4 linked regions of the Homo sapiens genome follow. The protein of the gene in region 2 interacts with the protein of the main gene of each other region in a pairwise test. Each region holds a gene or a part of one and is shown on either strand. Other genes may lie near its edges. The genes, in order: HAT1, STEEP1, KIF9 and RPRD1B.

What was found.
Region 1: the proteins of STEEP1 (region 2) and HAT1 interact in binary tests that used the Homo sapiens proteins (3 or more experiments, as listed by UniProt).
Region 3: the proteins of STEEP1 (region 2) and KIF9 interact in binary tests that used the Homo sapiens proteins (3 or more experiments, as listed by UniProt).
Region 4: the proteins of STEEP1 (region 2) and RPRD1B interact in binary tests that used the Homo sapiens proteins (3 or more experiments, as listed by UniProt).

Annotation. Positions count from the first base shown.
Region 1 is NC_000002.12:171,981,138-171,984,186, reverse strand, and holds the end of HAT1 (histone acetyltransferase type B catalytic subunit), read right to left. Parts: intron 1,003-3,049; coding exon 835-1,002; 3' UTR 501-834; downstream 1-500. UniProt on the Homo sapiens protein: Histone acetyltransferase that plays a role in different biological processes including cell cycle progression, glucose metabolism, histone production or DNA damage repair. Coordinates histone production and acetylation via H4 promoter binding.
Region 2 is NC_000023.11:119,555,208-119,562,530, forward strand, and holds part of STEEP1 (STING ER exit protein), read right to left. Parts: intron 5,179-7,323; coding exon 5,061-5,178; intron 1-5,060.
Region 3 is NC_000003.12:47,265,641-47,272,963, forward strand, and holds part of KIF9 (kinesin-like protein KIF9), read right to left. Parts: intron 5,822-7,323; coding exon 5,597-5,821; intron 1,624-5,596; coding exon 1,540-1,623; intron 1,429-1,539; coding exon 1,336-1,428; intron 238-1,335; coding exon 90-237; intron 1-89. UniProt on the Homo sapiens protein: Essential for normal male fertility and for progressive motility of spermatozoa.
Region 4 is NC_000020.11:38,029,708-38,036,860, reverse strand, and holds the start of RPRD1B (regulation of nuclear pre-mRNA domain-containing protein 1B), read right to left. Parts: upstream 3,116-7,153; 5' UTR 2,914-3,115; coding exon 2,763-2,913; intron 2,756-2,762; exon of another isoform or gene 1,456-2,755; intron 1-1,455. UniProt on the Homo sapiens protein: Interacts with phosphorylated C-terminal heptapeptide repeat domain (CTD) of the largest RNA polymerase II subunit POLR2A, and participates in dephosphorylation of the CTD by RPAP2. Transcriptional regulator which enhances expression of CCND1.

The sequences.
Region 1 (3,049 bases), on a different chromosome or scaffold from region 2:
TCAGTGACAGACTGGATAAAGAAAATGTGGTATATACACACCACAGAATACTATGCAGTCATAAAAAAGAACAAGATCATGTATTTTGCCAGGACATGGATGGAGCTGGAAGCCATTGTCCTTAGCAAACTAACACAGGCACAGAAAACCAAATACTGTATGTTCTTACTTAACAAGTGGGAGTAAATGATGAGAACACATGGACACAAAGAAGGGAACAACAGATACTGGGGCCTACTTGAAGGTGGAGGTTGGGAGAATAGCAGAAAAATTAACTATTGGATACTAGGCCTAGTATCTGGGTGTTGAAATAATCTGTACAAGAAACCCCCAAGACACTAGTTTACCTATGTAACAAACCTCCACATGTACCCCTGAATCTAAAAGTTAAAAAAGAAAGAAAAATCATATTGAAAAAATAAAATTACCAGGATAACCTTAAAGAAATGTTTTAAAGGTGTCAGATGTAAAATCTTAGAAGCAAAGTGTGGAAGGAATGATAAGTATTTAAGAATGAGGTTTATTGTAAGTATTTAAGAATCATATCATCACACATTAACATATCACAACTAAGCATTTATTATACTGTTTAAGAAGGGAAGCAATTGCAGTAGTATTTCAGAAGCTTTATCTTTCTTTAAATGCAATATATGCTCATAAACTCTAAACAGTATTTTAAAATATACAATCTCTCCAAAAGAAAATATTCAACTAAAGATAGATAACTTTTAGTATAAGCAAAATGTCACAAGATTTTAAAATTAAAGTCATCAGATTTTTCACAGCACATTGTACAGAAAATTTGCAAGCTTCCTGTACAGAGCAGTATAATCTTTACTCTTGAGCAAGTCGTTCAATAACACGCCGGTAATCTTCCACTAGTTCCTGAAAACTCTCTTCCAGCTGTTCATGTTGCATGCTTATTTCTATTTGGTTCATCTGGTTTGTCAGTTCTTCTGGTCTGAGACATTTTCTCATCTTAGCAAGATCTCTCTGCTTTTTCTAAGTGACAAACAATTATTTGTTAGACGAAGAAAGTAAATATATTTCCTTATAGTCTTACAATTTTAAGTCTCCAATGTTAAAAATAAGAATAGTATGAATACGCCCAAACTTGTCCCACAATGTTTTTTTTTTGTTTTGTTTTGTTTTTTAAGGAAGCTTAAACATAATGTTAACCATGAATTGCAAACCCTCTAAAAAGAGTTAACAAGAAGACCTGGTATTTGTGTCCAATGATGGTAAATACAGACATGTGACTAGCAGCCCCCTCCAAAACTTTAAAGAACTCTGGGCAGTATAGACACTCAAATATTTGCTTAATAGATAGAAGACATTAGCTGAAGAAAGACAACTGAGATTAAGTGCTATTATTCTTCATTTTACTATTCAGTCATTAATTAATTACATTTTAAATTCCACCCAGTGAAGTACTTACGGGCCACATGCTAATTTTAACATAAACTGTTAGAAATGTTTCAGAAAGACAAATGGAAAACTGCTATACTTTAAAAATATATTAAATAGCATTTGAGTCTTTATTAAGTTCCAGACATACATTATCATACTAAACCCTCCTGGTTTGACTTAGGATACCGCTATGCTAAGGAGTTTGCAACAGGTAGCTGATAACAACTTTTATGCAGGACACTGTGTCAGAGATGTTTAGGATGGGACTGGAGGACTGGGCAGCTACTGCAGTAGTTCAAGCCAGAGTTGATGAAAGCCTAGATCAAGTCAGCAGCAGCAGAGATGGAGAGGACAGGGCAGATTTAGGGGAGAAAATACTGGGTGATATGAGGAAGGAAGAATGAAGAATAACTCCAGGATTCCTGGTTGGGTGGCATTATTGCAAATATGAAGCTTTCATGTTTCGGATATACTGTTCTAGAACTCCTGGGCCCAAGTGATCCACCCACCTTGGCCTCCCAAACTGCTGGGATTACAGCCATGAGCCACCACACCCGGCCCAGTTCTGGCCTTTTAGACTGGTGAACTGGCTGGACAGGTAAAGGTACTTAATAATAATATAAAAAAGAATTATCATTCTTTAAGAGTAGAAAATACTTGCACTTATGAACTACAGAGGTTCCCATTATTTGGCATTAGCTGTGTGACTACTATTTGTACTCAGAATTTCCATCTTTCATTTGTTATATTTTATATAAAAGTCACATTAATATCTAAAATATATAATTCAATAAATTATTTTACTTTAGTAAAATCTTAATAACTCTTAAATGTTGCCATCTATACTGCTCTCTGTGCCCAAATTTCATCATTAAGACATTTTCTAGCTAACAAATATTACTTAAAGGTCAAAACCTTTGGAAAATACCATTTTTACCCATTTTCTGATGTTTCTGAATTGATAACATCAAATAATAAAATGCTACTTTGGATAACTTTTGAGGAGACCATTATAATTTATTACAAACCTGCTATATGCAGATGATGGTCTGTAAAATAGAAAAACTATTAAACTGCAATGAAATGACACTATGAGGAACTATTCATACATCTGTGTATGAATTCAAGATAAAATGATTTAGTCATAGGCAAATAATAATTTTATATTCAGAATGTGAACAGAATTACAATGACAAATTAGGAAATACAGTTGCACTGCAAAGTAAAAAGATGCTATGAAGGAAAAGTTGGGATTCAGCAAGTAGTGTCAGCCAATGAACCATCAGCATTCAAGACTGGCTCTATAAAGCAGAATCCATGGCAAATAAAACTTAAATTTTCTTTAAATTTACAAAGGAAAACCAAAACTATGTGTACCTGATACAGTTAGTTAATTTACTTTCTCAAATTGTAATGTAGAATCAACTTGGTCACTTATGTTCCCAGCTATTGTGATGTATAACCCTATAGGTATAGTATATATAAATGCAGCAACAACATTTTATCATTGAGCAACTGTACTCAATAATTATATGTTGAATAAATTAAATATTCTGCCAATCATCCCACTACTCAGCTGCAACTAGATGACAAATTTTCTTCTTTTTTGAGATGGAATTTTGCTCGTCACCCAGGCTGG
Region 2 (7,323 bases):
TCCTGACCCACAGAAAATACATAAAATGATAAATGTTTGTTCTTTAAAAAAAAAAAAATCAAGAGAGTACCAGAAGATGAAGATGGACAGATCATAGAGCGCATTCAGGCTTATATTTTTATCCAGCCAACTAGGAGTGTTTTCCTTGTACTCCACAATGATCCCTAAATGAAATCAGATGGGGAGGAAGGAGGAGTCCTTAATGGATTGGGCTAGACTCCTCCCCACTCAGAGCAGCTTTCTGCTTATCAGTCTTATTTATACTTCTGGGTAAGAATTTAATTAAAGAAAGGATTTTTCATCTAAAAATGTTTCAAAGGCATTGCTATAAGTGATGAAGGGTCACTAACAGATTTGAAGCAGGTGACTGACATAATGTGTATTTCAGATAATTCAAGCAGTAGAGGATAGACTGGAGGAGAGCAAAACTAGAGACCAAAAGACCAGGTAAGAGGCCACTTCAGTAGTCTAAGTAAGTGATTTTGGGTACTGAAATAACGGCAGTGCAGCAGGGCTGAACAGGAGGCAGCAGCCACAAAAGAGATTAGAAGGCAGAATCGACAGTACATGGTGAGTGACTAGATGTATGCAGGGGATGATGGTGGGATGGTGGGGACAGATGAGACAAAGAGAGACTGACTCCTAGATTTCTGGCTGGGGCCACTGCATGAATCCTGGTGTCATCATAAGAAGAAGGAAAAGAAGGACTAGCATTTGGCTAATAGTAATAGAGACCTGACTGCAATGGCTTCAACAAAAGAGCTTGTTCTCTCATGTAACATCAGGAGGAAGGCAGTTCTGAGCACTGGTTGAGACCCAAGGATAGCAGGGCAAAGGCTCTGCAATTCTTGTGGCCTCTCCTTCCCAGTTCCAGGCTGGCTGCTAGTGTTCCAATTATCATGTCCATTTCCCAAGAAGCAGGATGGAATAAGGATAAAGGGTAAAAAAGGCTTGAAGTCACCCATCAGCTGACATCTACTTCCATCTCTTTTGCTTGGCCAAAGCTAAGTCATATTCAGAATCTTAGTTGTTGGGGGGAAGGGGACTGGAATATGCACCCTAACTTTACAGACACTCGTGTATAGGAGGGTGTAGCAGAAGAGTGTCAGAGTACGCCTGTAATCCCAGCACTTTGGGAGGCCGAAGTGGGCGGATCACGAGGTCAGGAGATCGAGACCGTCCCGGCTAACACAGTGAAACCCCGTCTCTACTAAAAACACAAAAAATTAGCCGGGCGTGGTTGCAGGCACCTGTAGTCCCAGCTACTCAGGAGGCTGAGGCAGGAGAATGGCCTGAACCCGGGAGGCGGAGCTTGCAGTGAGCTGAGATCACGCCACTGCACTCCAGCCTGGGTGACAGAGCGAGACTCCGTCTCAAAAAAAAAAAAAAAAAGAGTGTCAGAGTGGTGCTGAGCGAATCGATCTGTGGTACTGTCCACAGTAGAGAAATGATAAGTTTGGCCTTCATCATGTTGGATCTGAAAAGTAGGACATCAGGTGAAGAGGTAGAGTAGGCAACTGGCTATACAGTTCTGGGACACAGGAAGGCACAGTAGGCAGATTTAGATTTTATCATCAGCATAAAAGTGTAACTAATGCCATGTAAGGTGACAAGAATGCCCAAGGAAGGCATAAAGAGAGTGGGGACAAAAGCAAGGTCAGAACCGCATGGAATACCAATACTTGAGGGGCAGGCAGAAGAAAAAGAATCCAAAGGATTGAGAAGGCCAAAGAAGGAGAAGGAGGCTCACAAGAGCAGCTTCACGTGTTGAAACCCTGTCTCTACTAAAAATACAAAAATTAGCCAGGCATAGTGGTGCACAACCGTAATCCCAGCTACATGGGAGGCTGAGGCAGGAGGATCACTTGAACCCAGGAGGCAGAGGTTGCAGTGAGCTGAGATCGCATCACTGCACTCCAGCTTGGGTGACAGAGCGAGACTCTATCTCAAAAAAAAAAAAAAAAAAGAAAAGAAAGAAAGAAAACATGTAGCTAGATGTCAGCCTATAGTTTTTTTCTGGTTCAACACTAAAGTTTCATAAGGGCAGGATTCTTTGCTGTTTACTGGTTGTACTGGGTTAGATAGTGACCCTTAAAAATTCACATTCTGGCCGGGCACAGTGGCTCATGCCTGTGATCCCAGCACTTTGGGAGGCCGAGGTGGGAGGATCACTTGAGTCCAAGAGTTTGAGACCAGCCTGGCCAACATGGTGAAACCCCATCTCTACTAAAAACACAAAAACTAGCCAGGCATGGTAGCACACACCATCTCAAAAAAAAAAAAAAAAAGAAAAAAGAAAAAAGAAAAAAAAATCCACATCCATCCAGGAACCTCAGAATGTGACCTTATTTGGAAATAGTGATGTTGCAGACATAATTAGTTAAGTTAAAATGATGTCATACTGGAGGAGGATGGGCCCTTAATCCAATATGATTGGTGCCCTTATAAGAAAAGAACAGGCAAAGGGAGAATGCCATGTGATGATACAAGCACTGACTGGAGTGATGCATTTACAATACAAGCCAAGGAATGCCAAGGATTGCTGGTAAACGCCAAAAACCAGGAATGAGGCAAGGAAGGATTCTCCCCTACAATCTTGAGAGAGAGCATGGACTTACCAATACCTTGATTTCAGACTTCTAGCCTCCACAACTATTAAACAACTTCTCTTGTTTTAGGCCACCCAATTTGTAGTACTTTATTTTTTTTTTATTTTTTGAGACAGTGTCTCACTCTGTCGCCCAGGCTGGAGTACAGTGGCACAATCTCAGCTCACTGCAACCTCTGCCTCCCCATACAAGCAATTCTCCTATCCCAGCCTCCCGAGTAGCTGGGATTACAGGCACACGCGCCACCATGCCCAACTAATTTTTGTATTTTTAGTAGAGATGGGGTTTCACTACGTTGGCCAGCCTGGTCTCGAACTCCTGGTCTCAAGTGATCCACCCACCTCAGCCTCTCAAAGTGTTGGGATTACAGGCGTGAGCCACCACACCCAGGCTGTAGTACTTTACTATGGCAGCTCTAGAAAACTAATACACTGGCGGCCGGGCACGATGGCTCACGTCTGTAATCCCAGCACTTTGGGAGGCCAAGGCAGACAGACCACGAGGTCAGGAGATCGAGGCCATCCTGGCTAACACGGTGAAACCCCGTCTCTACTAAAAATACAAAAAAAAATTAGCCGGGCATGGTGGCAGGCGCCTGTAGTCCCAGCTACTCGGGAGGCTGAGGCAGGAGAACGGCGTGAACCTGGGAGGCAGAGCTTGCAGTGAGCCGAGATCGCGCCACTGTACTCCAGCCTGGGTGACAGAGCGAGACTCCGTCTCCAAAAAAAAGAAAACTAATACACTGGTATATATTCCAGACTTCTAGGATAGTACCTGGAACATAGTAGGAGCTCGGTAAATGAAATATTTGTTGCATGAATGGATGGATTTTTTAATTCCCTAGGATTGACCTTTCCATGACTTCTAGCACCTGCTGCTGACCGTCCCCTAGCCACACCCCCACACACTTCTTGATACTCTCTCCTATTTTCTGCATCACCAGGTTCTTCTGGTTCTGTTCCAATTCTTTTGTCTGCCTTTTAAATATTCAGTCCTATCTGCTTGCTCCACACTCTGTAATTTTATCCCTTCCCAGGTTTCAATTTCCCATATATACCAAACTCCCAAATCTAAAACAGAGCTAACCACATCACACCCCTGCTTAAAAAACAGAGATAGGCCGGGCGCAGTGGCTCACCCCTCTAATCCCAGCACTTTGGGAGGCAGAGGCAGGTGGATCGCCTGAGGCCAGAAGTTCGAGACCAGCCTGGCCAACATAGTGAAATCCCATCTCTACTAAAAATACAAAAAATTAGCCAGGCGTGGTGGCAGGTGCCTGAAATCCCAGCTACTCAGGACGCTGAGGCAGGAGAATCGCTTGAACCTGGGAGGCGGAGGTTGCAGTGAGCCAAGATCACACCATTGCACTCCAGCCTGGGCAACAAGAGCGAAACTCCGTCAAAAAAAAAAAAACGGAGATGGCTCTTCATTGCCTACAGATTAAGGCCAAACTTGTCCACTTCAGCACTTTACTCTGTCCTCACCCTAGTATGCATGATGCCGTTCCTGTAAAGTAACCTGTGCTCCAGTCACAAACGACAATTCAGGTTTCTAAAGCACACCATGTTTGATGCTTTTAATGCTTCCATATTCCTTCCACCTGGAATGCTCTTCATTCCCTTCATCTACTTGGTGAAATCCTAGTTCAGGCTAAACACAAATGCCATCATCTTTTGAAGCCTTTCCTGGCCACCATTCAGGACAAATGACCCACTCCCACCTGTTTTTCCTTTCGTTCAGAAGACCAGTATTTTTTCCTATCACAATAGGAGTCATTCCCTCAAAGTCATGAGCTCTTTAATGGTAAAAATCATACCTTATTCATCTTCACAGATCCAGTACCTAGCTCAGTGCCTGGCACACGGTATGCTCCACAAGATTACAGGTTGAATGAACTCATTCAAACCTGTAAATTGTAAACAAACTACGGCTATCAAATGGCAATGGAGGGGCCGGGCACAGTGGCTTATGCCTGTAATCCCAGCACTTTGGGAGGCCAAGGAGGGAGAATCACTTGAGGCCAGGAGTTCAAGACCAGCCTGGCCGACATGGTGAAACTGCGTCTCTACTAAAAATACAAAAATTAGCTGGGCGTGGTGGCGCACGCCTGTCATCCCAGCTACTGGGGAGGCTGAGGCAAGAGAGTTGCTTGAATCTGGGAGGTGGAGGTTGCGGTAAGCCGAGGTCACACCACTGCACTCCAGCCTGAGCAACAGAGTGAGTGAGACTCCATCTCAATTAAAAAAAAAAAGCAATGGAATCACATGTGAGCACCATTTCAACAAAGCACAATAAAGATATTACTACATTAACAGAAGTTAGAAAACCACCACAAATGTCAAAGTATTGGGACCAACTGACCTGTTCAACAATAGATGTGATATTTATATTATTCAGAAACAGACTCCAACACAATAGGGAAATCCTAAACAGGGAGCATCAACCTCTTACCTCCGCAGATACATAGTCTCCTCATCTTCTGTGTTACAAAACTTATGGGCATGTTTGGCAGCATCAATCACACGGGACCGGTCCCGGGGCCTCATGGGCAATTTCTCTAACTGGCAGTCTGAAGGAATGGAGAGATTTGGTCACTAGAGTCATGGCAAAATATAGCAAATGAGTCACTGCAAAATATCCTGAGAAGTTTTGAGTGGGATCCCTAGCACTAGAATTTTCTACTACAATTACTATGCTTATTGAAACCTATTATTGAATGTTCCAACTAAAAATGACTTGCTATCAGGAGACCTTGGTATTTGGACCCAGCTCTCTTACTACCCTGGTGATCTTTGGCAAATCACTTCCTCCTTTGGAGACTTTTGCCTCATTTGAAAGATGAGTTAGATGATATTATCTCAAAAGTCCTTCCCAATACTGCAATTCAGGTTTCTGTAAGTATTTCTGTGATCATAGTACACTTGGTTTGTGTTATAATGCATTAGAATCAGGAGACACAATCAAGCATACTGGAATGCCTACAAGGAAGCACTGGGAAAAGTGGGTATGTGCTAAGAAAAGGAGAGAGGCTGGGCGTGGTGGCATGCACCTATAGTCCCAGCTACTCAGAAGAATGAGGCAGGGCGATTGCTTGAGACCAGGAGTGCAATGCTGTAGTGTTCCATGATTGTGCCTGTGAATAGCCACTGTACTCCTGCCTGGGCAACACAGCAAGACCCTGTCTCTGTTTTACAAAAAAAAAAAAAAAAGAGGCCAGGCGAGGTGGCTCATGCCTGTAATCCCAGCACTTTGGGAGGTCAAGACGAGCAGATCACCTGAGGTCAGTAGTTCAAGACCAGCCTGGCCCAGCTACTTGGGAGGCTGAGGCGAGAGAATTGCTTGAACCCAGGAGGTGGAGGTTGCAGTGAGCCAATATTGTGCCACTGCACTTCAGCCTGGGCAACAGAGCGAGACTCCGTCAAAAAACAAAAAAAAAGGAAGAGAGAGGGTGATTATATAGTATGCAAATGATCCATCCTAGTTGGAGGAATTTTAATCTGAAAACAATGAAAACACAGTAAACAAATTAGGTACAGTTGTAAAGCAGATTGAAAATTGATATAATGGGCCAGGTGCGGTGGCTCACGCTTGTAATCCAGCACTTTGGGAGGCTGAGGTGGCAGGTGGATCACCTGAGGTCAGAAGTTCGAGACCAGCCTGGCCAACATATAGCGAAACCGTCTCTACTAAAACATACAAACATTAGCAGGGCGTGGTGGCACACACCTGTAGTCCCAGCTAGTTGGGAAGCTGAGGCAGGAGAATCGCTTGAACCCAGGAGGCAGAGGGTTGCAGTGAGCTGGGATCACACCACTGCACTCCTGCCTGAGCAACAGAGGAAAACTCCGTCTCTCAAAAGAAAAAAAAAAGAAAAAAAAAGAAAATTTATATAATGCAAATTAAGCACCTAAAGGATCACAGAGAAAGTCAAGTGGTCAGAGTAATTCAAGATGAATAGAGGAGGTGAAGAGAGGAGTTAGAGAACACTAGGCAGTTTACATGTCAGCTCATTTACTCTTCACAATGAATGGTTAAAGTAAAGATTTGTTGTTCCTATTTTAAAGATGAAGGAACTGAGGTTAAAAAGGGTAAGAGATATACCATGCATCTAATAAGAAGCAGAACAAGAATTCAGACCCAACTCTAAGTGATTCAAAAGCACATGCTGTTTCCACCACACCTCCTTACCAAGAATTAATTTCTTCGATAAATACGTGAGGGCCCTCTAGGTAGCAGGCACTGTTCTAACACTGTGCTAAAGATTCAGCAAACAACAAAGCAGATAAAGTCTCCGCCCTGGCCGGGCACGGTGGCTCACGCCTGTAATCCCAGCACTTTGGGAAGCCAAGACAGGTGGATCACCTGAGGTCAGGAGTTCGAGACCAGCCTGGCCAACATGGTGAAACCCCGTCTCTCCTAAAAATACAAAAATTAACCGGGTGCGGTTGCTCACGTCTGTAATCCCAGCACTTTGGGAGGCCGAGGCTGGCGGATCACCTGAGGTCGGGAGTTTGAGACCGGCCTGACCAACATGGAGAAACCCTGTCTCTACTAAAAAAATACAAAATTAGCTGAGCATGGTGGTGCATGCCTGTAATCCCAGCTACTCGGGAGGCTGAGGCAGGAGAATCGCTTGAACCCAGGAGACGGAGGGTGCAGTGAGCCGAGATGGTGCCACTGCACTCCAGCCTGGGCAACAAGAGCGAAACTCCGT
Region 3 (7,323 bases), on a different chromosome or scaffold from region 2:
TTCTATCATCACCAGTGGCAGATGTGCCAAACCTGTCCCTCCCCAAAGACACAGACCCTCCTCCCTGGGCAGCAACTGTACCCCCTCACCTAACGAGTCCTTCAGAGCGTGGGTGAGCTTGCACTGCCGAAAGGGGATGTGGTCCCGCTTCTGGTCCCCAAGGGCAATGATGGCCTGCTCCAGGAATGAGAGCGATTTGTTGATGTAGGTGGCTTCCTTCAGGACTTGGCCCTCAGACTACAAAGCAAAGGTCAGTTCCACTTTGGATGGAATAAAGCAGCTGCCCCACTAAGAATAGCAGTCTTCCTGGTCTGGAGAAATGCTATAAGTCTGTGGTCAGGTCAGCGCCTCCTTCCCAGAACCAGGGTCTTCTTTCAATGTCATGCGATTGTATTCCATCTTGGGCTAATAATGGTAATACCAAAACTCAGAAATATTCATGTGAACACTCATGTGAATACTCATGCGAATGTGAATGCTTACATGAATATTCATATGGACATTCACTCAAAGATTCACACTAATATGAATATGTACTGAAATACTTGTCTAGATATTTGAGCAAAGAATCCTGTGAATATTCACACAAACACTCATGAATGCACATACAAATGCTCATCTGAATACTCTTGTTAATACTTCTGCTAATACACTCATACAAATATTTATTTGAAATACTCATGCAAATACTCATACGAATACTCATATTCATTCACAAAGAAGCCAGGTGTGGTGGCTCACACTTGTAATCCCAGCACTTTGGGAGGCCAAAGCAGGAGGATCGCTTGAGCCCAGGAGTTCAAGTTCAGCCTTGGCAACATAGCGAGACCCCGTCTCTACAAAAAAATTTAAAAATTAGCTGGTCATGGTGGTGCATACCTGTGGTCCCAGATACTTGAGACACTGAAGTGGGATGATCACTTGAGCCTGGGAGGTCAAGGCTGCAGTGAGCTGTATTTGTGCTACTGTACCCCAGCCTGGGAGACACGGCGAGACTGTGTCTCAAAACAACAACAACAAAAACACACACAGAGAAATGCTATACCAGCAAGGAATATTTACTGAGCACTGAGTGCCAGGCACTTTGCTAAGAATGTAGAGGGCACTATCTCATTTAATGTTTACAAAAATCCTCTGAGGTAGGAACCGCCCCCAGGTAATAGCCGTTCCCTTTTTGCAAATCCTGTCCCTCCAGCAAGCCCACATGTCCCACTTCGCCTAGCTCAGGACTGTGTTCACAAATATCCAATGAGTCATGGCCCAGATGTGCAGGCACTGTGCCAGAAAAAGGGCTTGTGGTTTATTGAGTAGCAACCTCCAGCCCCCATCACTTACCCCAGACTTCCCCAGCCTCTCTGAGCCTGCCAGATCCACCAAGTTAATTTTGGAAGTGATGTACTTTTCCTCTGATAAGGTCCGGGAATGGGCCTACAAAACATCCAAGCAGAAGTTAGACTGTCACAGGGAGAAGTTTCTGACTGAGCAGGCCCCGTGGGAATTGACTGCCCCGCCTGGGCTGATCAAAGAGCTTGCACCTACCTCTAAGTAGATGGTGAAAATGCAGTGTGATCTGGAAGAGTTTTTGTTCATAGTGTGGGAGGCTATAATCCTGTTGGTCTCACCCTGAAGAGGAAGGGAATCATAGGCAACATTTCGAAAAACTAAAACGACAAGGCACTTGGGTCATTTTTCAATTATACCAATAGCTACACAAGTGGTCTCATATCACTGCGATCAGCTGGGCCTTCCAGGCAAACCTCTTTTATAAACTAATAGAAAGGGAGTCAAATTGGAGTCCACATCTACACTTTCACCCGCCGCTGGGGAAGTGTGAATTGGTATAGCTTTCTGGAAAGCAAAGTGACAATAAAAATCAAGAGCCTTAAAAATGTTTATGAATATTGAATCAGAATCAACCTGCATGTCCAACAATTTGGGAATGATCTATGTATACAGTGGGATATTGGGCAGCCAGGAAAATGCTGACACATAGTTTTTAATAACAGAGAGAAATGTAGAATCCAAAATCATATTATAGCTGATCTAAGAAATGCAAAAGCATTCATAGAAGAAATAAGCAGAATTCTGCTAATAAGATGTTAATAATAGTTGCTTCTGGGTTGGGGTTTATAGGTTATTTTATCTTTTTTATACAGTTTTGTGGGTTTTTTTTAGTGAGCATGTATTACTATAAAAATAATAATTTATATTTTTATTTATTTTGTGTTCTCCTTTTTTTTTTTTTTTTTGGGAGAGCATCTCAGTCTGTCACCCATACTAGAGTGTGGTGGCACGATCTCGGCTCACTATAACCTCTGCCTCCCGGGCCCAAGCCATCCTCCCACCTCGGCTTCCTGAGTAGCTGGGACTACCAGCGTGCACTACCACACCTGGCTAATTTTTGTATTTTTTGTAGAGACAGGGTTTCACCATGTGCCCAGGCTGGTCTGGAACTTATGAGTTCAAGAGATCTGCCCGCCTCGGCCTGCTACAGTGCTGGGATTACAGGCATGAGCCACTGTGCCTGACCTAGTAATTTGTATTTTTAAAGGGACAGTAGGCCCTTACCTCTAATTTACAGGAGGAGGCCTTATGACCAGAATATACTTAAAAAGGAATTTTTTGTAGAGACAGGGTGGTGGTGTGGTGGAAATGGCTGTTCTTGGAGAAAAAGGTCCTTGAGGGATAGACTGATGTCTCCTTAAATGCTGATGAGAAGTGCTATGAACAAGCCCCAAAGTGAGGGTGGGGGACAGCCCCCCCTGGGGAGAGGAGAGCACCCGCTGAAGAGGGAAGGCCTGAGGCTGTGGAGCAAGCCTAGCAGACTCCTGTGGCCATACCTCTATAGCTTATAGTAGTGAGGCTATAGTCTATGGTCAGGCCTGTTCTACAAATCCAGTGACACTCACCAAGAATATAAGGGGTCACTTCATTTTTCTTCTTCTTTTTTTTTTTTTTTTTGAGATCATTCTCACTCTGTTGCCCAGGCTGAAGTGCAGTGGCGTGATGTTGGCTCACTGCAACTTCTGCCTCCCGGGCTCAAGTGATCCTCCTACCTCAGCCTCCCAGGTAGCTAAAATCACAGGTACAGGCCACCATGCCAGGCTAATTTTTTATATTTTTTTGTAGAGACAGGGTTTCGCCATGTTGCTCAGACTGGTCTTAAACTCCTGAGCTCAAGCAATCCTCCTGCCTTAGCCTCCCAAAGTGCTGGGATTACAGGCATGAGCCACCACAGCAGGTCATTCACCTTTACTCTTCAGTCCCCCTTCTGAAGTACCCTCTTGCCTTGTCTTTCTTTTTTTGTATTTTTAATAGAGAGGGGGTTTCACCATGTTGGCCAGGCTGGTCTCGAACTCCTGACTTCCAGTGATCCGCCTGCCCCGGCCTCCCAAAGCTCTGGGATTACAGGTGTGAGACACCGCGCCTGGCCTTGCCTTGTCTTTCTGGCCCTTTAAAAAAGATCCTGCTATTGACGTTGAGGAAGTAAGTTGCTATGTTGTGAGAAGGCACTATGATCATGCCTGTGAATAGCCATTGCACATGTGCCCATTGCCTGGGCAACACAGCGAGAACTTGCATAAAAAAATAAAGAGTTCCTAGCCTATATGACTTCTAAAAGAATAACATACACTTGACTGATTTCTTTTCTTGTTTTTGAGACAGAGTGTTGCTCTATTACCCAGGTTGGAGTGCAGTGGCATGATCTCAGCTTACTGAAACCTCTACCTGCTGGGCTCAAGTGATTCTCCCACCTCAGCTTCCCAAGCAGCTGGGACCACAGGCATGCGCCCCCATGCCTGGCTAATTTTTGTATTTTTGGTAGAGGTGGGGTTTCACTGTGTTGCCCAGGCTGGTCTTGAACTCATGAGCTCAAGTGATCCACCCGCCTTGGCCTCCCAAAGTGCTGGAATTACAGGCGTGAGCCACTGTGCCAGTGCATTTGACTGGTTTCTAAGAGCCTTTATTTTATTTTTTTGAGATGGAGTCTTACTCTATTGCCCAGGCTGGAGTGCAATGGCTTAATCTCAGCTCACTGCAGCCTCTGCCTCCTGGGTTCAAGCAATTCTCCTGCCTCAGCCCCCCGAGTAGCTGGGATTACAGGTGCCCACCACCACTCCCAGCTAATTTTTTTTTTTTTTTTTTTTTTTTTTGAGATGGAGTCTCCCTCTGTCGCCAGGCTGGAGTGCAGTGGCACAATCTCAGCTCACTGCAACCTCTGCCTCCCGGGTTCAAGCTATTCTCCTGCCTAAGCCTCCTGAGTAGTTGGGAGTTAGCGCCACCACATCCAGCTAATTTTTGTATTTGTAGTAGAGACGGGGTTTCACCATGTTGGCCAGGATGGTCTCAATCTCCTGATCTTGTGATCCGCCTGCCTCCGCCTCCCAAAGTGTTGGGATTACAGGCATGAGCCACCGTGCCCAGCCTAATTTTTGTATTGTTAGTGGAGATGAGGTTTCACCATGTTGGCTAAGCTGGTCTCGAACTCCTGACCTCAGGTGATCCACCCACCTCAGCCTCTCAAAGTGCTGGGATTACAGGCATGAGCCACCGCACCTGGCTCTAAGAGCTTTTGTATAGTAAGGATGCTAATTCTTATTTTTCTCTTTTTCTTTTCTTTTTTTTTTTTGAGAAGGAGTTTTGCTCTTGTTGCCCAGGTTGGAGTGCAATGGTACGATCTTGGCTCACTGCAACCAGTGCCTCCCGGGTTCAAGTGATTCTCCTGCCTCAGCCTCCCTAGTAGCTGGGATTACAGGCACCCGCCACCACACCCAGCTTATTTTTTGTATTTTTAGTAGAGATGGGGTTTCACTATGTTGGCCAGGCTGGTCTCAAACTCCTGATCTCAGGTGATCCACCCACCTCAGCCTCCCAAAGTGCTAGGATTACAGGCATCACCCACTGCACCCGGCCTTATTTTTTTCCATACAAGAGCTCATAATTTAACTGAAAAAAGGGACATAAGAATCATTTCAACTATGTAAAGAAAAAGCTGCACAGGAAAAAAGACTGGAAGGAAATGAGCTAAAATATACATTATTGTTGCCTTATGTAAAAAACAGATTATGCATGAATCATTTTTTCTTTTTATTTACGTAACAGGAAAGGAAGAGGAAATAAAATTCTTTTTTGTTCCTTTTTTTTTTCAGCACTATCTGAACTTGCTAAATGTGCATATATTAATTTCCATTCTGATAATCAAAGTAAGTAAAAAACTAGCTGGACACAGTAGCTTGCCTGTAATCCCTGCACTTTGAGAGGCCGAAGTGGGAAGATCGCTTGAGCCCAAGAGTTCAAGACCAGCCTGGGCAACATGGCCAGACCTTGTCTCTACAAAAAAAAAAAAAAAAAAATTAAGTGGGCATGGTAGCATGCTCCTGTGGTCCCAGCTACTTGGGAGGCTGAGGCAGGAGGATCACTTGAGCCCAGGAGGTCGAGGCTGCAGTGAGCCATGTTCATGCCAGTATACTCCAGACTTGGAGAAAAACCAAGATCCTGTCTCAAAAAAAGAAAAAGAAAAAGAAAAAGAAAAGCTGAGAAGGAGGGTGGCAGGGAGGGAGAGAAGGAAAGGAACCCTCAGGTTTTATTATCTCACCTCAAAAAGGAGGCTGAATGCATCCTCCTCCTGACTTGTGAGGTGAACTGACAAGCCCTTAATGAAGACTCCTTGAGGGTTTTCCACGATGGTCATTGGTGTGACTGAGGGTCCAACATAGGGCAGAGTGGACAGGAGATCAAACAGGCTCTCATTATAGATTTCCAAGTAGGAAACACGCACAGTGATGGCATGTGTGGGGCGTTCTTCGATCATCCTAAAAACCTAGATGACAGATTGTACAGCGGTCACCAAGAGCAGAACCCCAACAGCCAACTAGCATAAGGGGGGCTTCCTAACTCAGAAGGGAACATCAAGATGTATAGAATAATTATTGTCCTAAAGGAATTGGGTGATATTTAGTATCATCTTGTAGTGTTTTGAGGCTTGACATCAGATTGGCTAACACTTAAACCATCTCACGAAGTAGAGGCATAATGAGTGGAAAGGACTCTGGAGTGAGGATTTCTTATTTTAGAGTCTCATCATTTATATGCCTCTTTCAAATCTATTTAATTCCATCCACATATAAATCTCTGTGAATGAGGCAGTGCAGGAGCAATACGTATTTGTGGAAGGCACTACAAAATAAAATTATTTGTCAGCCGGGTGTGGTGGCTCACACCTGTGAGCCCAGCACTTTGGAAGGCGGAGGTGGGCAGATCATGAGGTCAGGAGATCGAGACCATCCTGGCCAACATGGTGAAACCCTGTCTCTACTAAAATTACACAAATTAGCTGGGCGTGGTGGCGTGCGCCTGTAGTCCCAGCGACTCGGGAGGCTGAGGCAGGAGAATCTCTTGAACCCAGGACGCAGAGCTTGCAGTGAGATGAGATCACGCCACTGCACTCCAGCCTGGGTGACAGTGAGACTCCATCTAAAAAATAAATAAATAAATAAATAAATAATTTGTCTATTGGTCACTCAGCTAGTAAGGGTAGAAGTAAAGCCAGAACTCAGCCTTCTCAACTCCTAATTCCCTCCCCAGTGCTTATCAAGGAAGGGATAATTCCTGAGGTCCTGCCTTCCTCTAAGAATTTAGACCGGTTTTGTTCAAAATAGTAGACACAAGTTACAGATGGCTGCTGAGTATCTAAAATGTGGCTAGTACAAATGAACTGAATTTTAAATTTTATGTAATTTTAATTACAGTTAGATTTAAAAACTGATGCAATTCAGTTATTGGTAAACTTTAAGTATGTCTGGAACAACTTGGGTATGTAAATCTACTTTTTCAACATTTTATGAAATCTAAATACAGATCAAGCATTTCTGATAATATTTATGCCTAAACTGAAATGTGCCCCAAGTATAAAATATGTACTGGATTTCAAAGACTTAGTATGAGAAAAAGAATGTAAACTATCTCAATAAGTTTATATTGATTACATGCGGAAATATTTTAAATATATTTAGTTAAATAAAATATATCATTAAAATTAATTTCATCTGTTTATTTTTACTTTTTAAAATGTGGTTACTGGAAAACTCAAATTTGCATGTGACTTACAGTATATTTCTATTAGTGGCACTGGGCTAGATTACTAAAGTCTAAGATGCTGAGATACTGAAGCTTTGACAGTGGGATATTAAGGGTATTGCTCCAAAAACAGGAGCATGGATGGTTCACATACTAGAGGAATGTATACACTTCTTATAGGACAGGGCTGCAAAAAATCCTGTCCTATAACACTTCTTATAGGACAGGGCTGTAAAGCTGCCTCTT
Region 4 (7,153 bases), on a different chromosome or scaffold from region 2:
AAACTGGAAACTAAATTTTCAATTCTATCTACTTAAAACTTTAGTTCCTTAGTCACACATTTTAAGTGCTCCATAGCCACATATACCAAGCGGCTACCTGTTGGATGGCACAGATAGAAAACATTGCTATTATCACAGAAAATTGTATTAGATAGCGCTGTTTATATCCTTTATGCTGCTATCATAGAAAGTTGTATTGGATAGCGCTGTTTAGATCCTTTACTCAACCACGAAAATTCTATCAGAGACCATGATTTAATTCCTATTTTTAAACTATATAACAGGCACCACGCGATATCCTGTGGTGTTGCAAATAAACAAGAAGGTCTAGTTCCTCTCTCAAAACATAATCTAATGACAAAGATGTAACCAGTTCAAATGAACAGCTAGTAGGAACAAATTAAATGCTAAACTGGTATGATGGGGTGGGAGGCACTCATTAATTCTAATAAATGAAAGCACCACAGTTTGATTGCAGTCAGGTGACCACCTTCACTTATTAAATGCATTGAGGCACTGAGTACATGAAAAAGAACACATTTTGGCATCAGGCAGCCCTGGGCTCATGTCCTAGCTGTATGTCTGTGGACAAGGCACTTAATCCCTCTATACCTTTATCATCTCATCTATAAAATGAGGATAATAATGCTAGCCTACTTGCAACATAAGGCTTTACCACGTAAGATTAGGGATAACGGAGCTTCATACACAAATGTACTCTCTAATTTGCTTTTTTTCAGTAACTCAACTAGGGTGAGGCAAGGAATCAAGAAAGTGTCACAAAAGAAGTGACACTTGGCCAGGCGTGGTGGCTCACACCTGTAATACCAGCACTTTGGGAGGCCGAGGCGGGGGCATCACAAGGTCAGGAGATCAAGACCATCCTGGCTAACACAGTGAAACCCCATCTCTACTAAAAATACAAAAAATTAGCTGGGTGTGGTGGCGGGCCCCTGTAGTTCCAGCTACTCGGGAGGCTGAGGCAGGAGAATGGCATGAACCCGGGAGGTGGAGCTTGCAGTGAGCTGAGATCGCACCACTGCACTTCAGCCTGGGTGACAGAGCGAGACCCCCATCTCAAAAAAAAAAAAACAAAAAAAATGACACCTGAGATGGACTTTAACTGCCTCTTGAGGTCCCACCCAATAGAATTCTGTACAGTGGCAATTCACATTTCAGCACACTCTTCAAATAATTTCTGAATGGCACAGTGGGGTACATGAAGAAGGCCCCATAAACTCCAGGCTCTACCTCTTCCCGGAACTGCCCGAAGGGCTGAGGGGATCCCTATCTCAGTACAGTACGCGATATTTGGGGGCAGTCCCTGCTAAAGGGCTAGAACTGGGTCTCCTGAAAAAAATCATGAAGATTTTGGTGTTTGCCAGCCTGTTGTAGTCTGAGCCTGTTCAGTTCGAAAGCCTTGAAAATACCACTTAGCCACTTCAGTTTCCTCACCTGTAGAGCAGGACATCTGTGGTGTCCCCAACTCACAGATAGTATAGAACACTTGTAAAGCCACTTCGCTATAAAGGCCTACCACATATAGGGTGTCTGGAGCAGCTCTGAGCTTCATTTCTTCAGTCTTCCATTATGAAACTCATCCGGGAGTGTAGGTGTCCATCTTTCCCCACCAGACTGTAAGCAACTTGAAGGTAAAGACCATGCCTCACAGTGAGTAATCAAAAGTCTCATCTCACCATAATCTGCTGAATGCCTACACTGTGCCTCACCCCATGCTAAATGTTCATTTGGATTATCCCGTTTACTCCTCACCACGAGATGAGTCTCAGTTTTTCCTCTTCTGCAAAGTTCCTACTTCATAGGGCTCCGAGAATTTTTTTTAATGGCAATGTATGTAAAGATATCAGTACTGCACTTCGCATGTAATAAAGACATAGTAAATTTCAGTTATCCATTCTGTAGATAAGAAAATTAAGGCACAGACAGGTTAAGTTGCTGGGGTCAGTAAGGCGGCAAAGTCAGGCTTAAATTCTAGGCAGTTGGCAGAGGCAACATGCTGCAAGTGTCCAAGCCAGTGCCTGGCACATAACAGAATGAGTTCAATGAATTGTCTGTCAGAACCTGAGCAGGGCCTGAAATCAATGACAACTGCATGAGAGAGGAGAGGAGAGGAGAGGTAAGGTCTGGGTGGCCCCTTAACCTAAGATGGGAGAGACTACCTACTTCACAGGGCTGTTCTAAGGACTGAGTGCGAGGATACACACAAAGGTCTTAGTATAGTGACTGGTATGAAGTAAAGGCTTTGTAAGGGGTAGCTATCCTTGCCTCCCTCTTACAGATGAGAAAACGGAGACACAGGGAGATGAAGAAACTCTCCCAGTATTATTCAGCTGGCAAATAGCTGAGCCAGGACTCGATCTGCAGAGTCTGACTCCGGAGCCCACTGGCTTTTACTCCAAATACCCAGCACTGGGCCCGACATGCTAGGGCCAGTACGGCAGTGAATGCAGCCGAGATAATAACAGCCACAAATGTCAGGGGGAAACTGAAGGGAAAATGGCTTGATGAACTAGAAGTCTGGACACCTGAGTCCCAGTCCGTGGACCCTCAGGCAAGTACCTTAAACCTTCCCGGGCCTCAGTTTCCTTCTTCGAGAAATGGGGCTAACTTTGTCTCCCATCTCAGAAGCTCGATCAGGCCTGGAAAGCAAGGCTCAATGAAGAGGCTTAGAGGGGCCTAGGTTGTATGTGGGCGAGAGGACAATCCGGGGACCGTCCAGGGGGTGGGGATTTGGTGTTTACCTTTGCGGAGCTCGCGGTGCCACACGGAGACGATGGGTCCCGCGTGCTTGCGGTGGTGGATGAGCCAAAGGGACAGGGTCTGCACGCTCTGCTGAGAGTTGCTCAGCTCCGAGAGCTTCTTCTCCAGCGCCGACTCAGAGAAGGAGGACATGGTGGCGGCAGTGAGGCCCGGCAGGGAGCGGCCTGGGCCGCCCAGTGCGGCGGGAAGAGCGACGGCACGAGGCCGGGGCCTCACCTGACAGGCTGCGGGACTTTTTACCGACTGACAGACTGCCAGGGGTGCGAGAAGGGGGAGGGGATGGGTCTCCGCAGTAACAGCCGCCCGCGCCGCCGCCACAAGATGGCCACCCGACCTCTCACCCTGCCGCGAGAGCGAGGTCAAAGGGCAAGGGCCGGAGCAGAGGGGCACCGAGAGGCGTCGGAGCTCTAGAAAACCGTCCCTTTGGAGGCGGCGGCCGCTCTGAACCTCGCGCAGAGCACTTCGAAGGAGACAGAGCGAGGCAAGGAGAGTAGTTCCCCGGGCCCCCGGAAAGAGCTTTGACCGCTCGAGCCTGCACACCGGCGCAGTGGATCTCGCCGGAACCCTTTTTCCCGCTCCCTCGGAACCTTTCTGGCGCGATACGGCGCGCTACTTAGCGCGTCACTTCCGGCGAGGCAGAGGAGGCGGGAGAGTGAGAGAAAGGCTGGAAGACGAGGTAAGGGAAGAGTGGCGGGAACCAGAGGGAGCCCAGCAGCTGGGACCCTGTAGAGGGGTATCCTGAGGGGACATTGAGTCTGAGAGATCATGATCTGGATATGGGAGGGGGATTTCCTTTCTAATCTGGCGGGCCCCAGGCCGCATCTTTCCTCCATATGTGTTCGGCTCTCTGGCTGTCCCCCAAAACACTTAGTTTTGGTTCTTCCAAGCCACCCACGTGCCCTTTTCACGCCTCCACGCCCTGGCGCTCGTTCTCTGTCCGAAAGTGACATCCCCTTTCTCACCTGGTGAGCTCCTACTCAGCCCCCCGGAGCACCCTTTAATGTCCTGTTTTGACCTTTTAGTCTGTAACAGCGCCGTCATGAAACACACATTTGGGCTCTCGGCTCTTAAGTGGGTTCTCACTCAGGGTATTATTACGTGCTGCTTTTGCCGTCTGCGGGTCCAGTTGACTTTTTCGAACTTAAGTGAGGTGTTAACTTTAGGGAAAAGGTGGAGGGAACTAACTTAGCCTTCCCAATGTGTCTGTTGACCTCATGTTGAGACACACTATTTGAGGCCTGGCGCAACGTCTCTTGCTTGTAATCCCAACCCTTTGGGAGGCCGAGGCGAGAGGATAGCTTGAGGACTGGAGTTCAAGACCAGCCTGGGTAACAGCGAAAATTAGCCAGGCATGGTGACGCTCACCTGCAGTTCCAGCTACGCGAGAGGATACCTTGAGCCCAGGAGTTAGAGGTTACAGTGAGCTATGATCGTGCCACTGCACTCCAGCCTGGGCGATGGAGCGAGACTCTTCTCTGAAACAAAACAAAACACTATCTGAGACTCTAAACCTTGACCCTATTTTTTTTTTAAGTTTTAAATCCCAGGTATCAAAGCAGCAGAGAAATTTTGTTTTTCTTACTGCCACGGGGGTGATGGTAGGGAGTTAAGTTATAGACATAAGAGGGTTTTAAAATTTCCTGATCGTGGTATAACTTCCTAGTTGTGGGCAGACTCTAGTTTAGGAGACGTTCTTCTAGTTGATGCCTGCTTTTGCTCTTATTGCACTGTATTGCAGTTCTTTGCTTACATGCTTTTACCCTTCCTCCAGACTGGAATCATAATCATAGCTAACGCAGTGAGAGGTTACTATGTGCTAGACACAATTCCCACACAGTAACTCATTTAATCCTCACAACAAAGCTGTGAGGTATTATATTATCCCCCTTTGGACAGCGTAGGAAACAGGCTCAGAGAGGTTAAGTGACCTACCCAAGATCACATTACTAAGACTTGAGGGAAGGGGCTGCAACTTAGCCATCTTTTTGGCCCCAGTTCCTGATTTATCAAGTGAGTTAGTGTAAAAGAGGTGAGTAACCTAAAATCATACAGTGAGTATCTAGTCATAACTGAGGGCTTTTGTGTCGAAATCTAGATCATCTTTCCATATTAATAACACTGTCATATACTGAGCACTTTTATACCAAGTCACTGTCTATTAAGCACATTACATACTTTTTAAATTTAATTCTTACATCAGTCTTAGGAGTTGAAATTATTACAATCACTATTTGATAGACGAGAAAATGTAAAGCATGGTTAAGTACCCTATGTACTTGGACATAGTTAGGAAATAGCAGAGCCAGGAGTCAAATTAGGGTTATCTTATGTCTGATCCCAAATTCTTGCCTCCTGAACCAATAGTTTATTCATTCATTCGGAAAATAATTTTTCAGCACCTATGTCCAAAGCACTCTTCTAAGCTAACAGACAAAATCCACGTTCTCAGGAACTTACTTTCTACTGAGAAAGATAGAAAAACAAACATGCAAGTTTAGAATAAGTCAGAAAGTGGTAAGTAACTTCAATAAAAATCAAGGAGATAAGGAGGATAAGGAATGTATATGTGTAGGTGGGTAGTCTTTTACTTATGCTTCTCAGAGAAGGCCTCATTGATAAGATGTCATTTGAGAGACAAGCCATATGCCATTGTTCCAGGAAGAGGGAAAACCAAGTTTATACCATTGTTGGCATTTTGGAGCAACAGCAGAGAGGACAATAAAGCTGGAGTGATATGAACTAGAAGGGTGGCTGGAAATTAGTTCAGAAAAGTACGAAGGGACTGCATCACATGGTGACTTGTAGGCAATAGTATAGACTTTAGATGTTACTCTGAATGAAATGAAGTCCACTGGGCAGTTTTGCACAAAGAAGGAGCATTGTGGCTGTTAGGTAGAAAATAAGACAGTAAGAGTGCAAAGGTAGAAGCAGGAAGGACCAGTTTGGCAGCTGTTGTAGTAACCCAGGTGAAAGGATAACTCAAACCAGGGTGGTATCTGTGGAAGTGGTAAGAAAGGGACAGTTCTGGGGATATTTTAGAGGAAGAGGTAACAGGATCCGCTGATAGATTGGATATGGGGTGTGAAAGACATATGAGAGTTGAGATAGCTCCAAGGGTTTTGGCCTAAGCAACTATAAGAATAGCGCTTCCATTTACTGAATTACAGAAAAGAGTGGGTTTGGAGAGTAAGAGCAAGCATTTGTATTTGGACATGTCCATTTGGAAATGCCTATCTGAGTATAGATGTCTAAGGGGCAGTTGGGTTTATGGGTCTGGAATTCAAGGAAGAGCTATCTGGGTTAGAGATAAAAATGTGAGAGTCATAACGGAATAAGGTGTAAAAAGAGACTGAGTCCTAGGATTCTTCAACATATAGAGGTCTGAAAGGTGAGGATGATATGATTATGTGATTTTTCTTCTTAAGCTTGTTAATAGCTTGTTAGTATTAACAACTCTAATTGATTTTCAAATATTGAGCCAGTCTTGCATCTCTGAAATATACCCCACTTTATCATGGTGTGTGTGTGTGTGTGTGTGTGTGTGTGTGTGTTTTACATACTGCTGAATTTCCTAATATTTTCTTTAGGATTTTTGCATCTATACTCATGAGAGAAATTGGTCTATAGATTTTTTTAATTTTTGTATTGCCTTTGGTTTGGTATCAGGATAATACTGGCTTTATAAAATGGATTGGAAAGTGTTTCTTCTTTTTCTAGAAGAGTATGTGCAGAATTGGTGTTAATTCTTCATTAAATGTTTGGCGGAATTCTCCAATGAAACCATCTTGGTTTGGAGATTCCCTCCACTCCCTGCTTCCCTCCCTCCCTCCTTCCTCCTTCCTCCCTCCTCCCTCCCTCCCTTCCTTCCCTTCTTCCTTTTTTTTCTGGAGTTTTTAAGTGACAAATTCAGTTTATTTAAAAGTTATAAAGCTGTTAAAATAATCTCTTTCCTATTGTGGTTGTGTTTTTTGAGGAATTAACCACTTCATCAAAGTTGTCAAATTTATATGGGTAAAGCTATTTGTGGTATTCCCTGTCTTTGTTTTCTGTTGCTTATAACAGAATACCTGAAACTGGGTAATTTATAAAGAAAAAGGATGTATTTCTTACAGTTATGGAGGCTGAGAAATCCAAGGTCACAGGGCCACATCAGGTAAAAAACTTTCTTGCTGGTGGGGACTCTGCAGAGTCCCAAGGCAGTGCAGGATATCACAGGGCCAGGGGGCTGAGTGTGCTAGCTGAGGTCTGTTTTGCTCTTATAAAGCCACCAGTTCCCATGATAACCCATTAATCCATTTATGAGGGCTTATAAAGACTCCACTTCTCAATACATTGGGAATTAAATTTCAACATGAGTTTTGGAAGGGACGGA